Regions from separate parts of the Homo sapiens genome. Here region 2 is linked to region 1. The links come from fine-mapping of genetic effects on gene expression. Tissue or cell type: cerebellum. Region 1 holds a variant in brackets; the other region holds the start of a gene. All regions are shown on one strand. Distances are between the middles of the regions.

What was found. PIP is the estimated chance that this variant, and not a neighbour inherited with it, causes the effect.
Region 2: GSTT2B starts here. The variant in region 1 is fine-mapped to the expression of GSTT2B in cerebellum (GTEx, PIP above 0.99). The same link has a PIP of 0.9 or more in cerebellar hemisphere, lymphoblastoid cells and skeletal muscle.

What each region holds. Positions count from the first base shown.
Region 1 is chr22:23,880,470-23,888,570 of GRCh38, reverse strand. It overlaps SLC2A11 (solute carrier family 2 member 11), which reads right to left. Exons shown (of 12, transcript NM_001024939.4): 7 at 5,925-6,112; 8 at 5,702-5,812; 9 at 4,698-4,799; 10 at 4,547-4,622; 11 at 4,142-4,269; 12 at 2,259-3,922. The coding sequence ends at 3,722. Among named protein-coding and RNA genes, the nearest start is that of MIF, 9.9 kb to the left of the region's middle. RefSeq lists an enhancer at 1-209. The variant C/G (reference allele first, on the strand shown) is at 4,238.
Region 2 is chr22:23,956,197-23,964,292 of GRCh38, reverse strand. GSTT2B (glutathione S-transferase theta 2B) reads left to right here and starts at 3,098. Exons shown (of 5, transcript NM_001080843.4): 1 at 3,098-3,273; 2 at 3,912-3,999; 3 at 5,592-5,742; 4 at 5,835-6,008; 5 at 6,361-6,879. The coding sequence starts at 3,162. The coding sequence ends at 6,570. RefSeq lists enhancers at 4,212-4,877, 7,194-7,801, 7,802-8,096.

The DNA.
Region 1 (8,101 bases):
AAGCAAATGGTACTGGTACGACCAGATAGCCATTTCAAAAAAAAAGAAAGAAAAGAAAAAAGGGCCAGTCATGGTGACTCATTCCTGTAATCCCAGCACTTTGGCAAACGAACGGCTTGAGTCCATGAGTTCAGGAACAGTCTGAACAACATGGCAAAAGCCTGTCTCTACAAAAAAACAAAGAAAAACAATAAAACAAAACAAAACAAAAATTAGCCAGGCTAGCCGGGCGCGGTGGCGGGCGCCTGCAGTCCCAGCTACTCGGGAGGCTGAGGCAAGAGAATGGCGTGAACCCGGGAGGCAGAGGTTGCAGTGAGCCGAGATAGTGCCACTGCAGTCCTGCCTGGGCGAAAGAGCAAGACTCCATCTCAAAAAAAAAAAAAAAAAAATTAGCCAGGCATGGTGGCACGCATCTGTAGTCCCAGCTACTTAGGAGGCTGAGGTGGGAGGATTGCTTGAGTCTGGAAGGTAGAGGTTGCAGTGAGCTGAGATCACGTCACTTGCACTCCAGTCTAGGCAACACACAGTGAGACCCTGTTCCCCCCACCCACCCAAAAAAAAGGAACCTCAGCCCCTCACACCATACCCAAAAATTAACTTGAAATTCATCATCAGCAACATAAGTGTAAAAGCTAAAACTATCCAACATTTGGAAGAAAATCTTTGCAACATTGGGATAGGCAAAGATATCTTATGGCACAAAAAGCATGAATCACAAAAACCAAAAACTGATAAATCAAACTTTACCAAAATAAAAATTTCTGTTCGGCCGGGCCAGGTGGCTCACGCCTGTAATCCCAGCACTTTGGGAGGCCGAGGCGAGCAGGTCACGAGGTCAGGAGATCAAGACCATCCTGGCCAACATGGTGAAACCCCGTCTCTACTAAAAATACAAAAAAATGAGCAGAGCATGGCAGCACGTGCCTGTAGTCCCAGCTACTCAGGAGGTTGAGGCAGGAGAATTGCTTAAACCCAGGAGGCAGGGCTGCAGTGAGCCGAGATCGCGCCACTGCACTCCAGCCTGGGTGACAGAGCGAGATTCCATCTCCAAAAAAAAAAAAAAAAAAAAAATTCTGCTCTTAGGTAGCATTAAGAAAATAAAAAAGGCAAGCTACGGACTGCAGGAAAATATTTACAATACTATATATTTAACAAAGTACTAGCTTCCAGAATGTATAAAAAATGCCCACATTTAAAAAATAATGACAACCAACCTGATAAAAATAGCAGATAAGGGCTGGGTGCGGTGGCTCATGCCTGTAATCCCAGCACTTTGGGAAGCCAAGGTGGGTGGATCACTTGATGTCAGGAGTTTGAAACTTGCCTGGCCAACATGGCAAAATCCCATCTCTACCAAAAATACAAAAATTAGCAGGGCATGGTGGCTCACGCCTGTGGTCCCACCTACTTGGGGGGCTGAGGTGGGAGGATCGCTTGAGTCCAGGAGGCAGAGGTTGCAATGAGCTGAGTTCATTCCACTGCCCTCCAGCCTGGGCGACAGAGAACCCTGTCTCAACAACAACAACAAAAAAAAGTAGACAAAATATTTGAACAAATTATTCATAAAAGAAAACCCACAAATGGCCATACTGAGCACATGAAAAGATGTCAAACATTATTAGTCATTAGGGAAATACCACAATTAAATGACAAGATACCACTACACACTCACTAGAATGGCTAAATTGAAGAGACTGACAATACCAAGTGCTGATGAGGATCTGGAGTATCCAGAACTCATACATTATTAATGAGAATGTGAAACAATATAATCAACCACTTTGGAAAACAATTTTTATACAGTTAAATATACATTTATTATTAAGCCCAGCAATTCATTTACCCAAAAAGCTAGACTGACTGTTTATGTCCTCCCCAGGTTCATACCTTGAAACCTAATCCCTCATATGATGGTACTTGGAGGTAGGGCCTTTGGGCCTCCTCGGAGGTGATTAGGTCATGAGGGCAGAGCCTGCATGAATGGGATTGGTGCCCTTATAAAAGAGACCCCAGAGAGCTCCCTTGCCCCTTCTGCCATGTCTAGGAGAACACAGCAAGAAGACCGCCATCTATGAATCAAGACATGGGCCCTCAACAGACACTGAATCCACTGGCACCTTGATCTTGGACTTCCCAGCCTCCAGAACCATGAAAAATAAATTTCTGTTGTTTATAAGCCACCCAGGCTGTGGTTCTTAGTTATAGCAGCCCGACGGACTAAGACACAAAAGAAATAAAAACATATGTTTAGACAATTATTATTGTAGGAACATTCACAGCAGTTTTATTCATGATGGCCAAGAATTAGAAACAGCCAAAATGTTCACCAACAGGTAGATGGATAAATAAATCATGGTCTAACCACAGAGGGGAATACTACTCAGCAATACAAAGGAGTCTCTCCTAATACGTGCAACAACATTCATGAATCCCAAAAACTTTATCTGGAGCCAAGCCAGACACAAATGTGTACATACAGTACGGAATGACTTCAGATTCTGAAAAAAGGCAAATCTGACCAATTGAGGCAGAAAGCAGGTCAGTGGTTCCCCAGGTCTGGGACTGGGGTGGGTTACTGATAGCAAATGGGCATGTGGGTGCCTTGGGGTAGGGTAAAGGTTCCATCTTGATCACGGTGGTGTTTCCCAAGTGTATACACTCACCAAAACTATACTTAGAACTCAAAACTCGCCAAATATATACTTAAAATGGATGCAGTTGGTTATGTATAAATTATACCTCAATAAAGTTGATTAAAAACATCAATTCCTCAGAAAATTCTTTTCTGACCACTCCCCTCTCAGACGAGGTCGGGCCTCCTGGTATGCATACCCATACCCACTACAACCTGTATTTATTTTTTTTGAAACATGGTCTCTTTCTGTTGTCCAGGCTGGAGTGCAGTGGCTCAATTAGGACTCACTGCAGCCTCGACCTCCCAGGCTCAAGTGATCCTCCCATTTCAGCCTCCTGAGTAGCTGGGACCACAGGCATGTACCACCACACCCAGCTAATTTTTTTTTTTTTTTTTTTTGGTAGAAACAGGATCTTACTATGTGGCCCAGGCTGGTCTCAAACTTCTGGTCTCAAAGCAATCTTCCCATCTTGGCCTCCCAAAGTGCTGGGATTACAGGCATCAGCCACCTCACCTGGCCAACCTGTATTTTTCTTTCACTGCATTTCCTGAGTCTGTAATTATTATTATTATGTTTTAAAGAGATGAAGTCTCCCTCTGTCACCCAGTCTGGCATGCAGTGGTGTGATTGTAGCTTACTGCTACCTTGAACTCTTGGACTCAAGTGATCCTGCTGCCTCAGCCTCCTGAGTAGCTAGAGCTGTTAGCACATACCACCATGCCCAGCTAATGTTTAAAATTTTTTGTAGAGATAGGGGGTCTCACTATGTTACCTAGGCTGGTTTCAAACTCTGGCCTCAATTGATCCTCCCACCTTGGCCTCCCAAAGTGCTGGGATTACAGTCATGAGCTGCCACAACCAGCCTGTAATTATGTTGTTACTGATTTTCTGTCAGTTAATTACCTTTAGCCTGGAATACCACGCTCACCATTGATTGCTAAGCACCTGGAGCCATGTCTGCACACAAAGGGTGCTCAATAAACACTCCTTAAATGAGGAATGCAGGAGGGAGTGAGGACCAGGGCCCTGGCAGGAAGCAGAGGACAGGACAGTAGCTGGCTTTGGCTCTGGCCACCCCTTTGGGACTAGAGTTCTGTTGACTGGATAACCTCCAGGCTCCTCCACGTGGGGCCCTGGGCCCGCCTGGGGAAGTTGAGTCTGTGTAATTCCTTGGAGATCTCTTGGAAGGTCTTGCCTTTGGTCTCAGGAAGGAACAGGCCAGTGTAGATGGCCCCACAGACACAGACACCAAGGAAAGGGACATAGAGGAAGTGGGACAAGGCCTCCTGCGGATTAAAAAAGACCCCAAGACCTGGTGTGTCTCCATCAACCCCTAAACAGAAGGCCCATGACAGGTCGTGAGGAGGCATTTGCCCCCCTCTTTGCTCCCCTAAGACCCCTCCCTTTCAGTCTCAGTCTCCCTGGATGGAAGCCTCCCCCTGGGGTTCTCAGGATGACAGGGACACAGCCTAAGGCAGGGCCCCCAGCGGGAGGGGCGGGCCTACCATGATAAAGGGAAATCCCAGGCCGACCAGGATGAGCATGATCCACATGAGCGCCCCGCAGACCATGCAGGCAGCAGGCCTGGCCATCTGGTCAAA[C/G]AGCTCTGTGGCCAGGATCCCCGTCACTCCGGCTAGAAGGAGGGGCAGGGACAGGGGGCTGCTGGCCAGGGTTCCCTGCCTGCCTCTCCCCGACCCCAGCCCAGACATGGGAGTGGGAGCCCAGGCCCAGTCTGTATGGGGGGCCCCTCAGTGCTCTCCTCCTGCCATTCCCTCCCAGAAGCCCCGGCATGAGGTGGTCTCTGAGGGCCTGCAGGGGACATTGCATTCACACCCACCCACTGTGCACCCAGGCACCCATCACTCCTTCTATGTGATGATGGATGCCCAGAGCCCCTTGGGCCCACTCACCAGGGCCAATGCCAAAGCTGAGGATGAAGGCAAAGATGCAGGCCATGGCCAGGTAGAGTGTCCAGGGGAAGGAGCTCTGCCGTGGACGGGGCGGGGGTGAGGTGGAAGTCAGCCCGGCCTGGACCCCCCAGCCCTCATCCACCCCAGCTACCTGCAGGCACAGGGCCACAGTGAAGATGCTCCCCCAGCAGGTCATCAGGCTGTACCCACCGATGAGCAGCACGCGCCGACCCACCCTCTCGATTACCACACACTGCAAAGGCAGAAAGCACAGACCCACACACCCAGCCATGGTCCCTGAGGTCTGGGGCAGGCAATGGGAAGGGGTCTCCTGAGAAAGCTGGTGGTGGAGGTGAGGGTAGTTTATTGCTTCAGTGTGACTTTATTAATTTCCCAAAGGAACTTGGTCAATCAATCACCCAACTTCAGCCAGTTTCCGCATCTCAAAATGGTGCTGGAAGTGACCCGCAAACCGTAGATGCTCAATAGATGCTCTCTAACTCACTGCATTGATTGATTGATTGAGACAGGGTCTTACTGGTCTCACTGAGCTGAGACAGGGTCTCACTGGTCCAGCCCACGCTGGAGTGCAGTGGCACAATCTCGGTTTACTGCAGTCTCAACCTCCTAGGCTCAAGTGATCCTCCCACCTCAGCCTCGCCAGTAGCTAGCACTACAGGCGAAGACCACCACGCCTGGCTAATTTTTGTATTTTTTGTAGAGACGGGGTTTCACCATGTTGCCCAGGCTGGTCTCCAACTCCTGATCCCACCTCAGCACTATTGCCTGGGCTGGAGTGCAATGGCACCATCTCGGCTCACTGCAACCTCCACCTACTGGGTTCATGCGATTCTCCTGCCTCAGCCTCCCAAGTACCTGGGATTACAGGCGCCCGCCACCACGCCGGGATAATTTTTTGTATTTTTTAGTAGAGACGGGGGTTTCACTGTGTTGGCCAGGCTGGTCTCGAACTCCTGACCTTGTGATCCACCCACCTCGGCCTCCCAAAGTGCTGGGCTTACAGGCATGAGCCACCGCACCTGGCCCCTCACTGCATTTTAACACCATAAGCTGGAGTGTAAACTGGTTTAATGCAGAGGACCTGGGGGTCCCTCCCCACAGGGCTGGTGGAGGAAGGGCACCCTCCAGACTCACACTAACAACCGCCGTGAGCAGCTCGCAGCTCCCAGTCCCGATGATCGCGTACTGGATCTTCGCTTCCGGCACTCCTGCCTTCCGGAACACGGAGGAGGCGTAGGCGTACACCTGGGAGAGGGTGGCTTTCAGGCCTGGGCTCCCTTCCACCTCCCATGGCTCCCAGCGGCCTGCAACACCAAGCCCCCGGGGCCCAGGGTGTGCGGCGGGGCAGGGGTCTCACCGAGTCATTCCCGCAGAGCTCCATGGCACTGCCCAGAACCACGAGGCTTGTCACCTGTCTCCTCAGGGCCCGATGCTGGAACAGCTCCCATGGGCGCCGGGCACGGCAGCCCTGGCAGGCAGCGCGCTCCTCCTCCAGCTCCTCCAGCTCCCCTGCCAAGTCCCCGGAGCCCCGGAGCCGCCGTAGTGCTGAGCCAGGGAGGAGGGTACTGAGCTCCCCGTCCCCAAGCCCCTCTTTGGTCCCCCTACAGGGACGCCCCCCTCCATCCCACCATTCCTTTCCTTCTTGGCTCACTCTCTGTCTCTGAGTCTGTCTGTGTGTGTGTGTGTCTCTCTCTCTGCCTCTGTCTCTCTCAATCTCTCTGTCTCTGTGTGTGTCTCTGTGTGTGTGTGTGTTTCTCTCTCTGCCTCTCAATCTCTCTGTCTCTGTGTCTGTGTGTGTGTGTGTGTTTCTCTCTCTCTCTGCCTCTGTCTCTCTCAATCTCTCTGTCTCTGTGTCTGTGTGTGTGTGTTTCTCTCTCTCTCTGCCTGTCTTTCTCAATCTCTCTGTCTCTGTGTGTGTCTCTGTGTGTGTGTGTGTTTCTCTCTCTGCCTCTCAATCTCTCTGTCTCTGTGTCTGTGTGTGTGTTTCTCTCTCTCTCTGCCTCTGTCTCTCTCAATCTCTCTGTCTCTGTGTGTGTGTGTGTGTGTGTGTTTCTCTCTCTCTCTGCCTCTGTCTCTCTCAATCTCTCTGTCTCTGTGTCTGTGTGTGTGTGTGTTTCTCTCTCTCTGCCTCTGTCTCTCTCAATCTCTCTGTCTCTGTGTCTGTGTGTGTGTGTGTTTCTCTCTCTCTCTGCCTCTGTCTCTCTCAATCTCTCTGTCTCTGTGTCTGTCTGTGTGTGTGTGTGTTTCTCTCTCTCTGCCTCTGTCTCTCTCAATCTCTCTGTCTCTGTTTGCCTCCCTGGTCAGATGGAGATGATCTTCCTTGCCCTGACATTTCTCAGGGCTGTTGCGGTGTTGCCACCATGGATGAAAAAAGGCTTTAGAAAGAAACGCAGGGTTCTGCGGACATATCAGACAGGACATGACTATTGCAGCACATTATCAAACCCAATTCTTCACCCCTCCCTGCACCCACACTGCTTGCTGTGTGATTTTGCAGTTCCTCCCACTAAAGGGGCAAGTACTGCCTACATCCCTGCTCCTGGCTCTGGGCTCGGCCAATAGGATGAGGCTGCAGTGAGGGCGTACCATGTTCCAGCCTAAGCCTTAAGAGGCCTTGCTCACTTCTACTTGCTCTTCTGCCTTCATGAGAACATTCCAGGCTAGCCAGGAGGATGACAAGACATGGACAGCCAAAGGGGCCCAGCTAAGCCACCCTCACTGGGACTATTCTAGATCAGCCAGCCAATGCCCAGCTGAGCTGCAGTTGCAGGAATGACCAAGATCAGCAGAGCCATCAGCCAGAACCATCCTAGATCAGCCCAGCCCAGAGGACTTAGAGGCTTAGGCTAAATAATTGCTTTTTTTGTTTCTTTACCACCGAGATGTTATGATCATCTATTAGTCAGCAATAGAAAGCTGATCAATAAATTGGCACCAGGAGTTGGTGCTACCGTAACAAAGACCTGTGAAATATGGTATCAGTTCCAAGACGAGGCAGAGGACGGCGATGAGGCTGGAGAAATGAAAAGCTATGTTATATAGTGCAGTAACACGGAAGAAAGAAAATGGGCTCAGTGAACTTATGGACTTGAGCAAAGAAAACTCCAAATGTTGAAAGCATGAACTGGTTGCTGTTAGATGCATATTCTAAGCTTGCTGTAAGACATGAAGAATTAGCTCAGAAAATAACTGGCCAGTTTGCAAGCAGAATTCAGAGGCAACAAAATTTAATTAAACGTAGCATATTTCAGAAACACTGGGTTAGTTGAAAACAACAACAAAAAATGTTTTCTCGCCTCTATCCTCTCCAGCTAGCAAAAGAATCCCAAATTAAGTAACAGCCTGTGAGCAAAGATCAAATCCAGAGCACTGCCAGGAAGCCATGGACTCATAGTAAAGATCAAATCAAGGGTATAGCTTAAAGCAGTGCCTCACAGACCCTCACAACTAGAAAAGGGGGCATTTAGGAGGCTTGAGGGCGTTGATTCACGGTAGCCTGACATACCCTAAATACCAGCAATTAGGCCTTGGGAG
Region 2 (8,096 bases), 76 kb before region 1:
TTTCAAAGACTCAGCAGCCAGCACTGATGGGCTAGGGGAAGACAGAGTCAGCGGAGGGGCTGGGCATAGCCAAGTGTAAGGCAGCATGACCTGCTTTAGGGGTTCTCTGATTGGATTTTCCCTCCTCCACCATGTGTGTGATGGGCTAGGATGTCCCCCTCCCTGGGGACACTTGGAAGCCTCTTAATATAGCTGCGGTGAGGGGTTTGTAAAGCCCCATTTTATAGATGAGGACACTGAGGCTCAGAAGGAGAAGTGACTCACACAGGGTCCCACAGCCAGAAAAGACAACATGAGCTGGGATGTCAGCTCCCTTCCCGGATACACCACTGCCCAGCGGGCCACCGCACCCCATGGCACTCTCATGCCTCAGCTCCGTGATTGCCACCAAGCCAGCCACAGAGATACGGGGCCCAGTAAGGAAGGCCTGGTCCCGCAGGAACTTGTCCTCGAGCAGCTGCAAGCATCCGTCCAGCTCAGCCAAAGTGGCCGCCAACATCTCGGGTGGCACTGACTCGCCCAGGAACACAGGGATTATTATCTGGTGGGCCGACAGGCAGAGAGAGGGGTCAGGGTCTGCCCAAAGCCCATCCTGGTTCCCACCATCATCCTATCATCACCAGTCCTTGGGATTTCTGCTCACCTCTGCTCACTTCTTTCCACTCATAGCCACCAGTAGCTCTCATCTCCTACTCAAACAGGGACAGCCTCCCCCTTCTCCCTGGGTCCTCACACAAGGCAACCAGTGGGATCCTTCTGTAATCTCAATCTGCCCGTACCCTCTCTTGCATAAAGCCTTCCATGGCTCCCCACTGCCCTCATGAGAAAGGCCTCAACACAAAGCCAGCCTTCTCCAGTGCGGTAGCCATCCCCTCCCCACTTTTCACCTCACCTCCTACTACCCCCCACTTATCAAACGGGAATGTGTGTATGAATCCTCCCTGGAATCTGGTTACAGTTTATGCTCCCAATCAGTAAGGTCAGAGTGGGGCCTGAGCCTCTGCATTTCCAACAAGCTCCCTGGTGATGCTGATACTCCCAGTCCATTGACCACACTTTGGATAGGAAGAGTCTACACTTGCTCTACTCAACTTCTCTCCATTCTGTCCTCAAACACACCACGCTTCCTTCCCCACCAGCTGGAGGGGGCTCTGCTCCCAGGCCCCAGAGGTCAAGGCAGACACAGTTAAGGTGTGGAAACCTCCTTATTGCCCGATGGATCCTCCAGAGAGGCGGTCCCTTACTTTCAGCAGGGCGCGTGTCTACCTGTTTCATGCTGTCTCACACACAGGGTGCCACCCCTGTGCTGGGCACTGGGTAAGTGCTCTGTACATATTAATTAGGAGTACTCATTTCAAAAATATGTGTGCCTTTGATAAATAAAAACAGTATGTGCATGTTGTGTTGGTGTGTGCTTCCTTGATTATTACTGAAGTTAAACATGTTTTCATCCATGTATTGACCATTTCTCTTTGTCCTTCAATGAAACCTCTGCTGATTTCCTTCGCTCATTTTTTTCCTGTGTCTTCGTCTGATGAGTTTCTCTTCTTTTTGTTTGTTCGTTTGTTTGTTTTGAGACAGTCTCGCTCAGTGGCCCGGCTGGAGTGCAGTGGTATGATCTCAGCTCACTGAAACCTCTGCCTCCAAGGTTCAAGTGATTCTCCTGTCTCAGCCTCCCGAGTGTGCCACCGCACCCAGCTAATTTTTGTATTTTTAGTAGAGACGGGGCTTCACCGTGTTGCCCAGGCTGGTCTCAAACTCCTGACCTCAACTGATCCGCCCATCTCTGCCTCCCAAAGTACAGGGATTACAGGCGTGAACCACCACACCCTACCTGTCTGATGGGTTTCTAAGAACATCTTAAAGGACATTACTTCCTTCTGACGTATCTTTTACCGAGATCCTTCCCAGTTTTTTGCTTAAGGTTAATCCATTTTTTCCTCCACAAAGTAACCTTGTATATGTATTGGTTTTTTCTTTGTTGAGTTCTCCCACTGTTCTGAGGCTTAGAAAGTCCTTTCATACCCAGACATCAGAGAAACAGATCCCGTGAGAGTAACTGGGATTGCAGGTGTGGGCCAGCATGCCCTGTTATCACTCCCTTTCTCTGAGTCAGCTTTTCTCTCTCAGTCTCGTCTACTCCTCGAACTCAGGAAATGTCACTACAGGTGGCCCCAGCTCCCGTTTACCTCCCCATAGGGAGCTCCTCTCTCCAGTTCCAGTTTCAAAACTCCCAAGGAAGCATTCTGGTTCACTCGCTTGGGCCACTGGCCAGAGGGATGGGATACTCTGAAAGATTCAGCTAGAGTCCCGGGCCCAGCCCTGGACCATCACTGTGCCCCCTGGTGAGATGCCAGGGCTGGGATTCAGGGAGAAGAAAGGAGGTTCCCGGACAGTCATTCCTGCCTCCCGCGGCTGCGGGCTCCCTGCCCCCATCCTGTGCACGAAGTGGGAGCTCCCGCTGTCTGGCAGCTCCCGCTGTCTGGCAGCAGCTGCTCTGCAGGGGACAGTCTGGACGGCAGAAAGTTCATCCTTAACCCCAGCCTTCCAGTCAAGGTTCCCACCAGTTTGGGACACCTGCAAGTGTCACATCCCACTGGGTGAAACTCTAAGATCCCTTTTAGGGGATCCCATTCGCTCCCTCCCTTCCGCCACCATGCAGCGCCGAGAAACAGAGCTCTGAACGAACCCTCAGATGTCCGTGCGCTGGGGCCTTTCCAGGACGGCGGCGCCCAGTCGTTTCTGGGTCAGGGCGACGCCTGGAACTGGGCAGGGTCCCTGGCACCGGGATCCCGAAAAGCAGACCTGCTTCTCCCTGTCCAGCCGGTTCCCCTTCCCCTTGCAGTCGGCCCCCTGCATCCGCGTCCTCCCTGCCAGTCGAGGGTCCCCAGCTCCAACTCCACCCTCCCAGCTGTGCGTTCATAGCGACCGCCCTCCCTGTAGGGACGCACGGATCTGGTGGTGGAGTCTTGGCCGGCAGGACTGGACAGGAACCGAAGGGGCGAGGCGGGTCCGGGGGTGGTGCGCTCCAATTGGGTGCTGTCCCCAGGGGGTGGGGCCTGATCCCCTATTTCCCGGCGCGCCGGGATCCTGCCACAGCTGCTGCCCACACCGCGCTCAGCGCCTTCACTGCCATCCCCGCTGTCCTTGCCGCCCCCGCCATGGGCCTAGAGCTGTTTCTTGACCTGGTGTCCCAGCCCAGCCGCGCCGTCTACATCTTCGCCAAGAAGAATGGCATCCCCTTAGAGCTGCGCACCGTGGATTTGGTCAAAGGTGGGCCCAGCCCGTTTCCCCGCGTGTCCACAAACCCAGTGCACCCCCAGGCCCCCGCCCTGCTCTGCCCTGAGCGTCTCGCCGCCCGCACAGCCCCCTCACCTCCTCCTGCAGCGTCTGCCACCAGAGAATGCTGTGGACTGAGTGGCCTTGGAGGGATCACAGCCTCTCTGAACCTTAGCTTGCCTTCTGAAAAGGAGGATAATGTTACCTTCTGCTCTGTAGGGATGGAAAGAAAATACTGAATGGAGTTGACAGAGTTCTTGCGTGGAATGCACGCATATAAATTCACAAAGCCCAGAAGACCTTGGGAAGAAGGACATGCTGTTGTGAGAATTAAGAGATGGGAAGAGATGAGCCACCCCAGTTTGCCTCCCCTCCCCTGGCCCACCAGAGTCCGGCTAGAAAACTTCTCTTTATCCACCTGCTGCACCTGGCCCCACCCACCAAAGCCCCCCAGCTGCCCCGGAATGTGGCAGGGCAGGGAGGCCCAGCCAGGGAGTGAGGCTGATCCAGGCCTCTAGTCCCAGACCTTGCTGTTTCTCAGGGCTGTGGGGCTCCGCTTGGGGAGGAGGAGGGAGGGTGTAGAGGTGCAGCGTTTTTATTCTGAAGACCTTTTCTGACTTCTTCCTCTTCAGGGCAGCACAAGAGCAAGGAGTTCTTGCAGATCAACAGCCTGGGGAAACTGCCGACGCTCAAGGATGGTGATTTCATCTTGACCGAAAGGTGCCCTCCTTCCCTCACCCCTCACCGCATCCGGAGCCCATGTGACCTTGGCTCTCCCCACTGGCCCCGGGCCCCAGTGGCCCTCCCATACCCCATGGGGCAGCGAGGGAGGGGAAAGGCGAGGGATCTGGCCGGGCGCGGTGGCTCACGCCTGTCATCCCGGCACTTCGGGAGGCCAAGGCGGGCGGATCACGAGGTCAGGAGACCGAGACCATCCTGGCTAACACCGTGAAACACCGTCTCTACTAAAAATGGAAAAAAAATTAACCGGGCGTGGTGGCGGGCGTCTGTAGTCCCAGCTACTCTGGAGGCTGAGGCAGGAGAATGGTGTGAACCCAGGAAGCGGAGCTTGCAGTGTGCTGAGATCGCGCCACTGCACTCCAGCCTGGGCGACAGAGCTAGACTCCGTCTCAAAAAGGCCGGGCGCGGTGGTTTACGCCTGTAATCCCAGCACTTTGGGAGGCCGAGGTGGGCGGATCACGAGGTCAGGAGATCGAGACCATCCTGGGTAACACGGTGAAACCCTGTCTCTACTAAAAATACAAAACATTAGCAGGGCGTGGTGGCGGCCGCCTGTAGTCCCAGCTACTGGGGAGGCTGAGGCAGGAGAATGGCGTGAACCCAGGAGGCGGAGCTTGCAATGAGCAGAGATAGCACCACTGCACTCCAGCCTGGGTGACAGAGGGAGCCCACTCCAGCCTGGGCGACAGAGGGAGACTCCGTCTCAAAAAAAAAGGAAAGAAAGAAAGGAGAGGTATCTGGGGAGAAGGTACAGCTTGGGGTGTGACCGGGATGAGCAGGGGCTGACAGAACATGTCCCCCCACCTCTCATCTTCCAGCCTTTTCTGAGCCGCAGGGCCTCTCCACTCCCAGACTGAAGGGTATTAGAAGAGAAGACAAGGGAACATTTTTCCACTGTTGCGCATTTGTTCAACAAATGCTAGCTGAAAAGAGCCTCTAGTGACTTGTTGCAGACTACCCAATCTACCCAGGCCGGGCCTAGAGGCCAATGCCATGGCCCAAGGGCACAGCTCATGGTGAGGTCCAGCTGCTGGGCAGGAAAAGGACAAGAGGTCAGGTGGCTGCAGAAGTGATGGCTGGGGGCCTGTCAGACGGGGGCCAAAGACATTCCTCCCCTCGTGATCCCTGACCCAAGCGCGTGGACATGCAAGGGACTCCACGGAGCATCCACTGTGTGCCAGCCCCATGCAGGGTTCCAGGGGTCCAGGGAGCCTATTCTGAGCTGCACCGCCTCGGACAAGTCACTTGACCATTCTGACCTTGAGTTTTCTCTTGTGCTAAAAGGCTAACAGGAGTGTCTACCTCACAGGGCGGCTGCTGGCATATCACAGAGATGAGGTTCTCAAAATGCAAAGCAGAAGGTCCAGCCAAGAGTCGGTGCCCAAGGCAACAAAGACAGGAGGAGACTCGTAGGAGGAGGGGGTGGTGTTGGGGAGCTGGAGATGGAGGGCGAGGCTGGAGGGCAGTCCTTCAAATGCAGAGAAGCCCCCGGGCCCCACTGGCAGATGGGAGCAGTTAGGGGTAAATGCCTGGTGCCAGTGTCCTTATAGCCACTGCCCATTTGTTCCCAGCTCGGCCATCCTGATTTACCTGAGCTGTAAGTACCAGACGCCGGACCACTGGTATCCATCTGACCTGCAGGCTCGTGCCCGTGTTCATGAGTACCTGGGCTGGCATGCCGACTGCATCCGTGGCACCTTTGGTATACCCCTGTGGGTCCAGGTGAGGAGAGCCATCTGGAGAGTGATTGGCCATCAGGGAGTAGTTGGCAGTAGGCCGGGGCCATAGACTGACCCACTCTCTGCCCCCATCAGGTGTTGGGGCCACTCATTGGGGTCCAGGTGCCCGAGGAGAAGGTGGAACGCAACAGGACTGCCATGGACCAGGCCCTGCAATGGCTGGAGGACAAGTTCCTGGGGGACAGGCCCTTCCTCGCTGGCCAGCAGGTGACACTGGCTGATCTCATGGCCCTGGAGGAGCTGATGCAGGTGTGAGCTCAGCCTGTGGGCAGTGTCCCTCTTCGTGTCACACCCATGAGGCAGACAGAAACACTGAGGCCTGGAGAAAGCCAGAACTTTGCCCAGAATCATAGAGCAAGTCTCTGGATGATCTGGGGCCAGAACCCTGAACTTCTGCCTCCTGCCTGGGTGTGGGGTCTCACCCTGGCTGCTCTTGGGCTCTAAGGCTGAACATACTGCCTGGGCCCCTGTGGTCCATTCACTTAGGGGCTGGGGAATGGACCATGTCTCTGATACTTCTGCCCATGGTTCCAGCATTCGGGTCGGCAGTGACAACTGGGAAAGTTGTATGCCCACAACTTTTTCATCCTTGTCCCTACAGCCGGTGGCTCTCGGCTATGAACTGTTTGAGGGACGGCCACGACTGGCAGCATGGCGTGGACGAGTGGAGGCTTTCCTGGGTGCTGAGCTATGCCAGGAGGCCCACAGCATCATCTTGAGCATCCTGGAACAGGCGGCCAAGAAAACCCTCCCAACACCCTCACCAGAGGCCTATCAGGCTATGCTGCTTCGAATCGCCAGGATCCCCTGAAGGGTCTGGGATGGGGGCCAGGAGATTAGCAACAAGGATTCATTCTGTTACTTACTTGCCCCTTTTTATCTTTCCCTCTTGCCCCAGTCCCTTCTCTCCAGCTTCATGTGAAGCTCTGCACAGACAAGACACTCAGTGTCCTTGGCAGTGCTGCTACTCCTCAGGTGCAGCATACATAACCAGTAAGAGACTAAATCTGCAATATATAAAGAGCTCCTACAAATCAGTAACATGAAGAACACTCAAAAATTGGCAAATGTCATCAGTGTTTTAAACAGAATAAAGATTCCAAACACTTTGAATAGAGAACCAAGAGTTATTGGTTTTACTACATTGTTGTGTTATACATATGGAGTAAAAGTATGTGCTAGTAATCCTCATCATGGTTAATAACAAAGTAACCTCACAATAACGAGTCAACATAATTGTATCACCAGGGCAACAAAATGTTAAGTAAGTAACCAATTCGAATTGCAAACTGTTAAAGGATATAGGCGATGTTTCACAGGGCATAGCAACGGTCTTTGAAGTCTAGGAAACTTAAAAGATTTCTTTTAACAAGCATTCATGTCTTCTAGGACAGTTTTGTAATAACTGCAAATAGTAAGATTATACATTGTCACACAGACCTCCATGTATATCCATGGGATGGACCCCACCACAATGATTTTAACGGAGAGAACTTGATATAAAGAATTGGTAACCAGGCATTAGAGAACTCCGAAGACAGAGAGAATCCAGATTAACACGGAGGTAAACACTGCAAGAAGCTACCACCCCTAGGGCTGGGGGATCAAGGGAGGAATTAGGAAGACCAAGATGCTGGAGGGGCCCTGAAGAATTCAAACCTCCAAGAAAGGTGTTGCTCATCCCCCCTAGTATCACCTTCCAAGAAGGGCAGGTTTCCCCAGTTTGCCCTGAGGTCTTCACAGGAGGTCATGTGGCTGTGGATGCAGTTCTCAAATGTGACAGTAGATGTCACTGCCGACCAATAAACAGGATGTTCCAGACACACTCTGGGCTACCTGCCCACATGTCTTGTGGCCTTACGGCCCCCCATTTCCCAAGCCTGCCCTGTGCCCATCATGTGCCACTCTATCGGGGGACCTGCCCCAATAATCACGTAGGTTCTTTCCTATTTTTCCTAACCGTCAGCCGGCTTGAGAAATAAAGGGAGAGAGTACAAAAGAGAGAAATTGTAAAGCTGGGCATCCGGGGGAGACGTCACACGTTGGTAGGATCCGTGATGCCCCACAAGCCACAAAAACCAGCAAGTTTTTATTAGGGATTTTCAAAAGGGGAGGGAGTGTGCGAACAGGTGTGAGTGACAGACATCAAGTACTTAAGAGGGTAATAGAATATCACAAGGCAAGTGGAGGCAGGGCAAGATCACAGGACCACAGGACCGAGGCAAAATTAAAATTGCTAATGAAGTTTCGGGCACCATTGTCATTGATAACATCTTATCAGGAGACAGGGTTTTGAGACCAACCGGTCTCACCAAAATTTATTAGGTGGGAATTTCC